3 linked regions of the Homo sapiens genome follow. The protein of the gene in region 3 interacts with the protein of the main gene of each other region in a biochemical or structural test. Each region holds a gene or a part of one and is shown on either strand. Other genes may lie near its edges. The genes, in order: RBL1, RBL2 and BRF1.

Evidence for each region.
Region 1: the proteins of BRF1 (region 3) and RBL1 form a complex in vitro, tested with the Homo sapiens proteins (one study listed by BioGRID).
Region 2: the proteins of BRF1 (region 3) and RBL2 form a complex in vitro, tested with the Homo sapiens proteins (one study listed by BioGRID).

What each region holds. Positions count from the first base shown.
Region 1 is NC_000020.11:37,029,911-37,033,561, forward strand, and holds part of RBL1 (retinoblastoma-like protein 1), read right to left. Parts: intron 2,967-3,651; coding exon 2,755-2,966; intron 1-2,754. UniProt on the Homo sapiens protein: Key regulator of entry into cell division. Directly involved in heterochromatin formation by maintaining overall chromatin structure and, in particular, that of constitutive heterochromatin by stabilizing histone methylation.
Region 2 is NC_000016.10:53,468,852-53,472,502, reverse strand, and holds part of RBL2 (retinoblastoma-like protein 2), read right to left. Parts: intron 2,588-3,651; coding exon 2,318-2,587; intron 2,121-2,317; coding exon 1,840-2,120; intron 1,758-1,839; coding exon 1,581-1,757; intron 1-1,580. UniProt on the Homo sapiens protein: Key regulator of entry into cell division. Directly involved in heterochromatin formation by maintaining overall chromatin structure and, in particular, that of constitutive heterochromatin by stabilizing histone methylation.
Region 3 is NC_000014.9:105,217,446-105,221,096, forward strand, and holds part of BRF1 (transcription factor IIIB 90 kDa subunit), read right to left. Parts: intron 2,686-3,651; coding exon 2,624-2,685; intron 1,854-2,623; coding exon of another isoform or gene 1,788-1,853; coding exon 1,706-1,787; intron 1,609-1,705; coding exon 1,553-1,608; intron 356-1,552; coding exon 99-355; intron 1-98.

The sequences.
Region 1 (3,651 bases), on a different chromosome or scaffold from region 3:
AACTACAAAATGTTGCTGAAAGAAATTAAAGAAGACGCAAATGAAAAGACATCCTATGATCATGGACTGGAAGACTTGACATTCTTAAGATGTCAACACTAGCCAATGCGATCTCCATATTCAATGCAATCTCTGTCAAAATTCCACAATGTTTTTGCAGAAAGAGAAAAATCCATCCTAAAACTCATACAGACTCTCAAGAAATCTTAAATAGCTAAAACAATCTTAAGAAAGAAAAACAAAGTTGGAGGTCTCACACCTCCTGATTTTAAAACTTATGACACAAAGCTATGGTTATCAAAACAGTGTGGTACTGAATACAGATAGACATATAGTCCAATGAATAGAATAGAGAGCCCAGAATTAAACCCCCATATCTATGCTCAAGTGACTTTTCAACAAGGATTCTAAGCTCATTCAATGGGAAAGGGCAGTCTTTCAACAAATCGTGCTGGGAAAAATGGATATCCATGTGCAAAAGAATGACTTTAGACCCTTATCTAACACCATATACAAAAATTAAAATGGGCTGGGCGTGGTGGCTCACGGCTGTAATCCCAGCACTTTGGGAGGCTGAGGTGGGCAGATCACTTAAGCTCACGAGTTGAGACCAGCCTGGGCAACATGGTGAAACCCCGTCTCTACAAAAAAGTTCAAAAACAGGCCCGGCGTGGTGGCTCACACCTGTAATCCCAGCACTTTGGGAGGCCAAGGTGGGTGGATCACCTGAGGTCAGTAGTTTGAAACCAGCCAAACCAGCACGGTGAAACCTCGTCTCTACTAAAAATACAAAAATTAGCCAGGCGTGGTGGCATATTCCTGTAGTCCCAGCTACTCAGGAGGCTGAGAAAGGAGAATTGCTTGAACCCGGGAGGCAGGGGTTGCAGTGAGCCGAGATTGCGCTACTGCACTCCAGCCTGGGCAACAGAGTGAGACTCTGTCTCAAAAAAAAAAAAAACAAAAACAAAAAACCCAAAAAACGAAAATTAGCTGGGCATGGTGGCACATGCCTGTAGTCCTAGCTGCTCAGAGGGTCGAGGTGGGAGGATCATCTGAACCTGGGAGGCGGAGGCTGCAGTGAGCTGTGACTGCGTGACTGCACTCCAGCCTGGGTGATAAAGTGAGACTCTGTCTCAAAAAAAAATAGACATAATAAATATAAGAGCTAAAAACTATAAAACTCTTAGACGAAAACATAGGGGAAAAGTTTTATAATACTGGATTTGGCAATGATTTCTTGTGTATGACACCAAAAGCACAGACAAAAAATGAAAAGAATAAATTGACTTTATTAAGATTAAAAACTTTCATGTGTCAAGAACACTATCAACGGAATGAAAAGGCAACCCACAGAATGGGAGAAAATACTTGTAAATAGTATATTTTATAGGAGATTAATATCTAGAATACATAAAGAACTCCTACAATTTAACAAAAACAAAACCCAAAACTCATAATTAAAAAAATGGGCAAAAGACTCGAATAGACATTTCTATAATGAAGATATATAGATGGGCAAAAGCACATGAAAAGATACTCAATATTACTAATCATTAGGGAAATGAAAATTGAAACTATAGTAAGATGTCTCTTTATACCCATTGGATGGCCATTATCAAAAAAACAAACAAACCAGAAAACACGAAACGTTGGCAACGATGAGAAGAACTTGGAACACTTGTGCCTTGCTAGTGGTAATGTAAAATGGTCCACCCACTGTGGAAAATGGTACGGTGGTTCCTCAGAAAATGAAATACTAAATTACTCTCCCATTTCTGGGAATATACCCAAAGGAATTGAAAGCAGAGACTTGAATAGATATTTGTTGCTATTTTTTTTTCTTCTTAAGACAGGGCCTCGTTCTGTTGCCCAGGCTGGAGCGCAGTGGTGTGATCTCGACTCACTGTAGCCTCAACCTCCTGGGCTCATGTGATCCTCCCACCTCAGCCTCCAAAATAGCCAAGACTATAGGCATCTGCCACCATACCTGGCTGCTTTTTTTTTTTTTTTTTTTTAAAATAGAGATAGGGTCTCACTGTGTCGCCCAGGGTGGTCTCAAACCCCTGGGTTCAAGTGATCCTCCTGCCTCGGCCTCATAAAGTGCTGGGTTTACAGGCATGAGCAACCACGCCTGGTTTGAACAGACACCTGTACACAAATGTTCATAGCAGCATAACTCACAATAGCCAAAAGGTAGAAGCAACCCAAATGCCCATCAGCAGATGAATGAATAAACAAAATGTGGTATTAAAAAAAAGTATATTCATATGATGGAATATTTTTTCTTTTGTTCTTTTTTTCTCTTCTTCATACAATGGAATATTATTCAGCCTTGAAAAGGAAGGAAATTCTGGCACAAGCTATAATATGAATGAACCTAGAAGACATTACGCTAAGCCAGTCACAAAAACAAACAAATATCGTATGACTTCACTCATAGGAAGAACCTAGAGTAGTCAAATTCACAGAAACAGAAAGTAGAATAGTAGTTGCCAGAAGCTGGGGAAAGGGAGAAATGGATACAGAATTTCAGAATGGGAAGACGAAAAAGTTCTGGAGATAGACGGTAGTAATAAAGCTGCACAACAATGTGAATGTATTTAATACCATTGAACTGTACACTTAAAAATGGTTAAAATGGTAAATTTTGTGTTATGTATATTAGAAAAAAAAAAGACCAAAGTCTGTCTCTGTTACTCAATCTTTCTTCCATTGATTAAACAAATTCTTCTAAAGTGCTATAAAAACACATACCTTTCTGTAAAATAGTGCTAAGGACCCAGTTCTCTTTGGCCTGTTTATTCCAGTTGAATGTACCTCTTGTGCTTTAGTCAGATTGGTCTGTTTTGGAGAAGCACCAATTAATGAATGAGCAGTAAGTGATACAGGACTCTTGACTTTGGACTCCTGATTTGTATTCATGGAAAGAGGTATCAGTGTGATCTCTCCAGCATCATTTGCGACACCTGAATGTATAAGCATTATTAGAAATAATCTGCATATGTTCTAGGAAAGTTGTCAACTATATATATTTTGACAATTATATATACATATATCTGTGTGTATAAGAAGGCTACAAAATAGTAATTCTAGGTTATGACTGAATTCTTTTTTTTTTTTTTTTTGAGACAGGGTCTCACTTGGTCACTCAGGCTGGAGTGCAGTGGCGCCATCTCAGCTCACTGTGGCCTCGACCTCCTGGGCTCAAGTGATCCTCCCATTTCAACCCCCGCAAATAGCTGAGACTACAGGTGCAAGCCACTATGCCTGGTAAATTTTTTTTTTTTTTTTTTGAGATGGAGTCTTGCTCTGTCGCCCAGGCTGGAGTGCAGTGGCGTGATCTCGGCTCACTGCAACCTCTGCCTCCCGGGTTCAATTCTCCTGCCTTAGCCTCCTGAGTAGCTGGAACTACAGGCACATGCTACCACACCCGGCTAATTTTTAAAATATTTTTAGTAGACACAGGGTTTCACCATGTTAGCCAGGATGGTCTCGATCTCCTGACCTCATGATCTGCCCTCCTCGGCCTCCCAAAGTGCTGGGATTACAGGAGTGAGCTACTGTGCCCGGCTTGTATTTTTTTTTTAGAGATGGGAGTTTTGCCATGTTGCCCAGGTTAGTCTCGAACTCGTCAGCTCAAGCCATCTGCCT
Region 2 (3,651 bases), on a different chromosome or scaffold from region 3:
TAGTTATCAGGCAAATGAAAATCAAAACCACAATGATATATCACCCAATACCCGCTAAGATGGCTATAATAAAAATAATAAGTTGGCAAGGATGTGGAGAAACTGGAACTCTTGTGCATTACTGGTAGCAATGTCAAATGGTGCAGCTTCTGTGGAAAATGGTACGGTGGTTCTTCAAAAAAGTTAAACATAGTATCACCATATGACCCTGCAGTTCCACTCCTAGGAATAAACTCAAAAGGACTGAAAATGGGCACTCAAACAGGTACATGATATACCTGTTCACAACAGTGCTATTCACTATAGCCAACAGTTGGAAACAGCCCAAATATCCATCAGTGTATGAGTGGAGAAAAAAATTGTGCCTATCCATACAATGGAATATCATTCAGTCATAAAAAGGAATGAAGTACTGATACATGCTGCAACATGGGTAAACCTGGAAAATATTATCCTAAGTAAAAGGAGCCATACACAAGAGGTCACATATTGTACCATTTCTATAAACGATTAAGAACAGATAAATCCATACAGCCAGAATGCCAACTGCTGGTTGCCAGGTGCTGTGGGAGGTAGAATGGGGAGAAACTACTTAATAGGAAAGGAGTTTTACTTTGCAGGTACGGAAATGTTCTGGAACTAGACAGAGGTGGTGAGTATACAACCATTTATTACACTTAGTACTGTAAATGTGCTAAATGCTCCTAAATTGTTCAACTTAAAATAGTTAATTTGGCTGGGCCCAGTGGCTCATGCCTGTAATCCCAGCACTTTGGGAGGCCGAGGTGGGCAGATCACCTGAGGTCAGGAGTTTGAGACCTGCCTGGCCAACATGGTCAAACCCCATCTCTACTAAAAATGCAAAAATTAGCCAGGCATGGTGGCACATGGCTGTAATCCCAGCTACTCGGGAGGCTACGACAGGAGAATCGCTTGAACCTGGGAGGCAGAGGTTGCAGTGAGCTGAGATGCACCACTGCACTCCAGCCTGGGTGACAAGAATGAAACAACATCTCAAAAAAAAAAAGAAAAACCCAATTAATTTTATGTTATGTGAATTTCTCCTCAATAAGTTATTTAAACAAAGTAAGATAGTAAGTGTTAATGAGATAGTGGAGAAACTAAAATCTTTATTATACTGCTGTGTAAGTGTAAAATGGTACAGTACTTTGGAAAACAATCTAGCAATTCCCTAAATAGTTAAAACACAGTTAATGTATGACCCAGCAGCCCATTCCTAGGTATATACCCTAGAGAAATGAAAATACATGTCTATACAAAAACCCAAACACAAATGCTAATAGTGGTATTATGCATATATGCCAAAAGTAGAAACAACTAAAATATACATTAGCTAATAAATGGATAAAAATACTCTCATATAACTATACAATGGAATATTATGTTCTAAAATTGTGGTGAGTATTGCACATATCTGTGAATATACTAAGACCCATTTAGTTGTGCATTTTAAATAGGTGAATTATAGAGCATGTAAACTGTATCTCAAGACAGTGGTTAAAAAATGTTCTCAGTAATGAAGACCTATCTTTGCCTTTACAATTCCAAATGGTACTCACCTTTGCCATCACATAAATGGCACACATTAATAACTGGTCCAGATGTCTGTCCATCATAAGTTCAGGACACTGAATTATGGAGAATTCAAAGCAGGTCCAGATTTTTTTCCTCAATTCATCTGAAATATCTAGTTTGGCACAGAGATCCCGAAGGCGGACAGCTGCTAAATGGTATACCTAGGAGATAAAAACATTTCAAACTTTGTTTAACACTTGTATTTCCCAAGCTCATGCTCTGATAAGGTATGTGAAAAATTACCTTTCTAAAGAAAAGCGATAAAGAGCTGGTCTTCCTGGGTCTATTACTACTGCTGGTTACAGACTGGCCTTGCTTCTGCTGTTGGCCACCTGGGGAAATCTGTTGAATGGCCACTTGACCAGGGACTTGCAAAGTTGTTCCTGTCACCTGTTGAGAGCTCAGACTTCCAGCCAGGGCCTGAGCACTGAGGGGCTGGATGGAGCCTGTCACAGCTTGTGCCTGCCCCCCAACATTGACTTGGACAGGGAAGAATGTTATCCCTCCATTTTCATTGGCAATACCTAGTGACAGAGAAAAAAAGCATGAAGAAAATGTTGATAATAAGAGGTTCTCCGGGCAGAGGTTTACAATTTCTGCTCTCCCAAACCCTCTCTCCCCATCACTCCTCTGTCCCCTATGTCACTCTAGCCAAACCTCGGGTAACTTTTCAATACATGCCACAGAGAAGGAACTCAATATCCAACTCTGCCTTCCTTACCTTGCACAGGAATGGTTACCGTTTGCCCATTGTTGGCTGTGACAGTGGCGGTTGCCATGGTGACCAAAGTCTGTCCAGGAACTGGTGTGACAGAAACAGTCTCCCCAGATACATTCTGCACAGGGACAGCATTGACTAGGGGCTGTGGGGGCATGCGCCCAGGCGTCCCTCCATCAGAGGGGCTATCATTCTCAACAAATAGCCGCCTTCTGGTAGTGCTGGCTGGTGGGGAGCTGTACCTATCGTATAATGTGGTTGGAGATGTTATGCCTAGGGTCAAAACAAATCAAACAAAGCATTTAACTCAAGGAGACTCAGATCTGACTTCCGTCCAAGCTCTTATGTTAAAAAATAACTACAGTGTTTGAAATACTTCATAATTCAAAAAGCAAACAAGAATTACAGAAGTCATATCTTACCTATATTCATTAGTGAACTTTCATTCGTGTTCAGTGAACACTACTGAGAGCAAAATTTTAAAACGGAATTTTTTGTCTTGCAGTGTTCCTTTCTCCACGCCCCCTTTCCCAAATCAGACCTGACTCTGTCTTCCACTACTAAAGAACCTTCATGATTTAGGGGCAATTTAAGGAATTACCCTATTTTTCTATATTATATTTTTCTATAATATTTTCTATCATATCCACTTTCTACCTACCACTCATGTAAGATGTGATTTTACTACAGAGCCACTACTTGATAAGGGGACCTGATTGGTAGTATGTCATCTAGGAGCATTCCGCCACCGGTTTTATCAATTTTGATCTCTGTCTTTTTCCACATATAAAAAATTATTAAAACTCAATAATGTTCTTAAGCAAGGTGGACATGCATGATTTGGATTCAGTTAAGCATAATTTATTTTTTTAAAACAGTTTATATACCATAAATTTCATCTACTTAAATTATACAATTCAATGGTTTGGGGCAAATTGTTACTATTTTTTTTATTTTTTGAGACAGAGTCTTACTCTATCACCCAGGCTGGAGTGCAGTAGCCTGATCTCGGCTCACTACAACCTCTGCCTCCTGGGTTTAAGTGATTCTTGTGCCTCAGCCTCCCAAGTAACTGGGATTAGAGGCATATGCCACAAGGCATGGCTAATTTTTGTATTTTTAGTAGAGATGAGGTCTCACCATGTTGGCCAGGCTGGTCTCGAACTCCTGACCTCAGGTGATCCACCCGCCTTGGCCTCCCAAAATGCTGGTATTACAGGCTAGTTTTTTAAAATTGTGGTTATATATATAACATAAAATTTACCATTCAACCATTTTTAAGTGTATGATTCAGTGGTACACAACCCATTATGGCTTAGTCTATTTTTAAGTATTCA
Region 3 (3,651 bases):
GCCCCGGCTGGCCCCCGGCAGCTCCAGGACCCGAAGCCATGGGCCTCTGCCCGCCCTGGGCTGCTGCCCTAACCCAGCCACTCAGGACAGGATGGTACCTTTTCCCCACACTGGTCACAGGGTCAGCCCCACTTCTGCTGGCCGGCGTCCTCCTTCGTGACAGCTTCCTGGCACTGGCGCTATGCTCGGGCTGTGCATCCTCCCTGTGCGGACTGCCCCCGCCGGCGCTGCTGAGGCCCCGGAGCACGCTATAATTGATCTTGCTGGAGATCTTCTTCTGCTCCAGCATCTTCTCGATGGCCTCCCTGGCGGTACTGGCCTGAATTGGCTCCCGTCGCTTGCAAGACTTCTTGGGCTTGAGGGAAACAAGCAAGAATGCCTCCCGTGAGTCACGCCCACTGCACTCCACCATCAGGGGCTCCACGTGAGGCCAGGAGTGCAGGCGGGTGAGGCCTGGCTCAGGCCCTCAGAAGGGCCGCTCCTGCCTCCTCCCCCCAGAATGTGGGCCAGCCTGGTGCTCTCTGGGCCTGCCCACGTCAAATCCTGCCCTCCCAGGTGAGTGGGGCACGTGGCCTGGCATGGGTGCTGGCAGGGCCTCCAGACAGCAACAGCAGCAAACATGCCACAGGTGCTCAGGGCCCTGCTGCCCCTGGGTCCCACACAGGGCAGGGCCACATGCACACGGCAGGGCGATGTGCTGCTGCACTGTGAGGGCTGCAGCAGAGATGGCTACTCAGTGAAGACAGACAATCCACCCCAGCACCGCTGCCCACGTCAAAGGCCCCAGCTGCCCGAAGACCCTGGATCTCCTTCTAGGAGCTGGAGCCATAGACCACTTCAGGGCAATCAGCCTGCACCACCCCTGCTGCCCCCCGCTGCACGATGACCTTCCTGCGTGGCCCAGCAAGGCCTGGGACGTGCTGCTGGGTGGGGTGGAGTCCCTGGGCTCCTAACTCTCTGACCACAAGCTCCCCGGGTCCTGCTGAGCGGGTAGGCCCCACATCTGCCATCCCAGCCACCTCCAGCTTCGTCTGAGGGACCCCAGTCTCGCAGGCAGGGAACTGGCTCCCCGTGTTTTCTCCTGCTCAGTCACTCAGAGGCTCAACCACTGCTGCCTGCACCACGAGGCTGAAGGCACATTCCGCCAGAGAGTAAGCTGGCAGAGCAAGTCACCGTGACGGCCACAAGGCAGGGAGGCATGACAGTCGGACTTTCCCAGGGCGTCAGAAGAGCAAACCCGTTAACACAGGCAGGGACCCCAGCGTCCAGCCCCGAGTCTCGACAGTCTGCCCCGGTGCTGCATCCAGAAGGTTACCCCAAAGCTGAGCACACGCCCTCCAAGGTGAGGCCGACGGCTGGGCGCCTGTGGCCAGCACGGGGCAGGACCTAGTGGTTAAGGACGTGGGTCTGGGGTCCAGAGCACATGGCCTCCGGCTGCCTGCCCTGGGGCCTAGACCCTCCTGTCACATGGGGAAGGGACATTCCAGAGACATTTGCCCCCCGTAACCTGGACACCCCCAAGAAGGCCAGGCCCAGCGTCACAGGCGCCCACCTTGTGTTCCTTGTAGATGCCGAGCTCCTTCTCTTTCGCTATTCTTGCTTCTTTTTCTAAAAGTTCAGAAAGGGGGCCAGCGTCACTGAGGGCCCACGCCCCAGGCCTGGGGACTGTGCGTCCTGCGTGTGAGTGTGGGCGGGTGGCGCTTACCCCTCTGTTCCCGCAGGTACTCGGCGTTCTCCCTCATCCACAGCTCGGCCTTCACGCGGGCTTCCGACTCATTCAGGATGTACTGGGCGAGCACAGGGAAGTGGGGCTGGCTTTTAGCCTTCGCACACCGGGGCATGCTAAGGTCGCGCTGGCCAGCGGGAAGTATTTCCACCGTTAGAGGAAGGGGAACCCGGGGCAGCCTCTATTTAGTGCGGAGCCTGGGCTGAGGCCTCATCGCGCGGGGCGAGTTGGGGACCTGTTGCTCTGTGGCCTGTCCCAAGGCCAACCACGCAGGCCACATGTGTGAGACCCCCTAGGGCAGCTTGCAAGCCCTGCCGGCACCAGGACCCTGGCCAGCCAGAGTGCAGGCCACAGGTTCCCACAAAGGGGCCAAGTGAGGGTGAGAGCCTCCCACTCAGGTACAGATGGGCCAGGCTGGAGGGGTCTGAGGCACCACGTGGCCATGAAATCAGGGAAGACGACTTCCTGCCTGACAGAGGGCAAGTATATTGAGATAAACTGCAAAGAGCTGGTCCCAATGGCTGGAAGCCCTGGGGTTTGGGGGCGCACAGCGCATGTGGAGTCAGTGGGTGCCCTCTTGTGTCTAGAGACCCCTCGAGGGGCTGCCCCTGGTGCTATTTGTGCGATGTGTGCCTGCTGCAGGCTATGTGCCGAGGGCCGCAAGGACCAGGCGCAAAGCCAGGGGCCTCTCGACAGGCCGCCCCCGAGCCGACACTGGAGAAGAGAGTGTGGGGGGGGGTCCCGGGAACAGTGGCCAGAAGGCCAGGAGCCCACTTCACCCAGCGGGGTGGGCTCTGGGCAGGGGAGGTGGCCAACCCCGCCCGACCACTCAGGGCTCCTTGGGCTGCAGCGCCCTCCCAAGCCCAGCCCCTCTTGGGAAGGGGTGCTGCCACGTACCCTGTCAATCTCCAGGTCATCAATGCCACTGAGGTCCAGCTCACCGTCTCCTGAAGCATCTTCTGGAGGGAAGCACAGCATCCGCGTCACTCAGGGCCAGCACTGATTATAGGAGCGTGGCCACCACCTGGGCTGGCTCAGGACCCTGGGTCTGGGCTAAGGGCTTTCTAGAACCCCGTCCCCTCCTCTGCACTGGTGGGTCGCGCCCTGTCTGCCCACATGACCGCACCTCTTTAAATGCCTAGCTCAGGACACTAAGCGAAGCCAGCAGAACACTGAACTGAAGCTGCAAAGGAAAACCCCAGCACTTCTGTGCTTTTTGTAAAAAAGCAACTTTTTAAGAACAGGAGACAGAGGCTGTCAGGCCCCAAAGACCGAGGGAGGGCACGGAAGCTGGGCAGGAAGGAAAGGTCAGGCCACGGAGTGAGATGGGGGTCTGTGCTCAGGGGAGCCAGCTCCCCATCACTGAGCCCATAGGTCTGGGGATAGAAATGAGGGAATAGAAATGATTCCGGAGTCCAGGCCTGAGGGAGCCCTCCATGATCATGCTCAGGACACCCCAAAACCTGCCTGTCACCCCTGCCCAGCCCCACGCAGTCCAGGCAGCATCTGCACAGCCTGGAATTGGGACAGCCTCTCCTTGCCACAGCCCCACGCCATAGCTGCCTGCCCCGTGCTGCCAAGTCAACTCCAGCACAGGGCCAGACTGTCTGAGGTGCTCTCCTGCCATGCTGCTCCAGGGCCGAGGCCAGAGACGGCTCCTCTCAGCACTCACAGGCAGCCCTTCCTCAGCTCCAGCCAGAATGGCCCTTTCTGCTCAGGGTCACTGTGCCGCTGGCTGCCCCAGGGCCTGTGCATGTCCCCTCTGCCTGTTGCTCTGTGTGACTCGCCTGGGTTCCACCCACACAGCAGCCCCAACCATCAGGATTGTCTCTACCCCGGCCCAGATATCACTTGATAAACATTCGCCTGGCTCCTCACACAGAGGCCAGGCCCTGGTGCCCGACGGGAGGCAGGGCTTGAGGGTG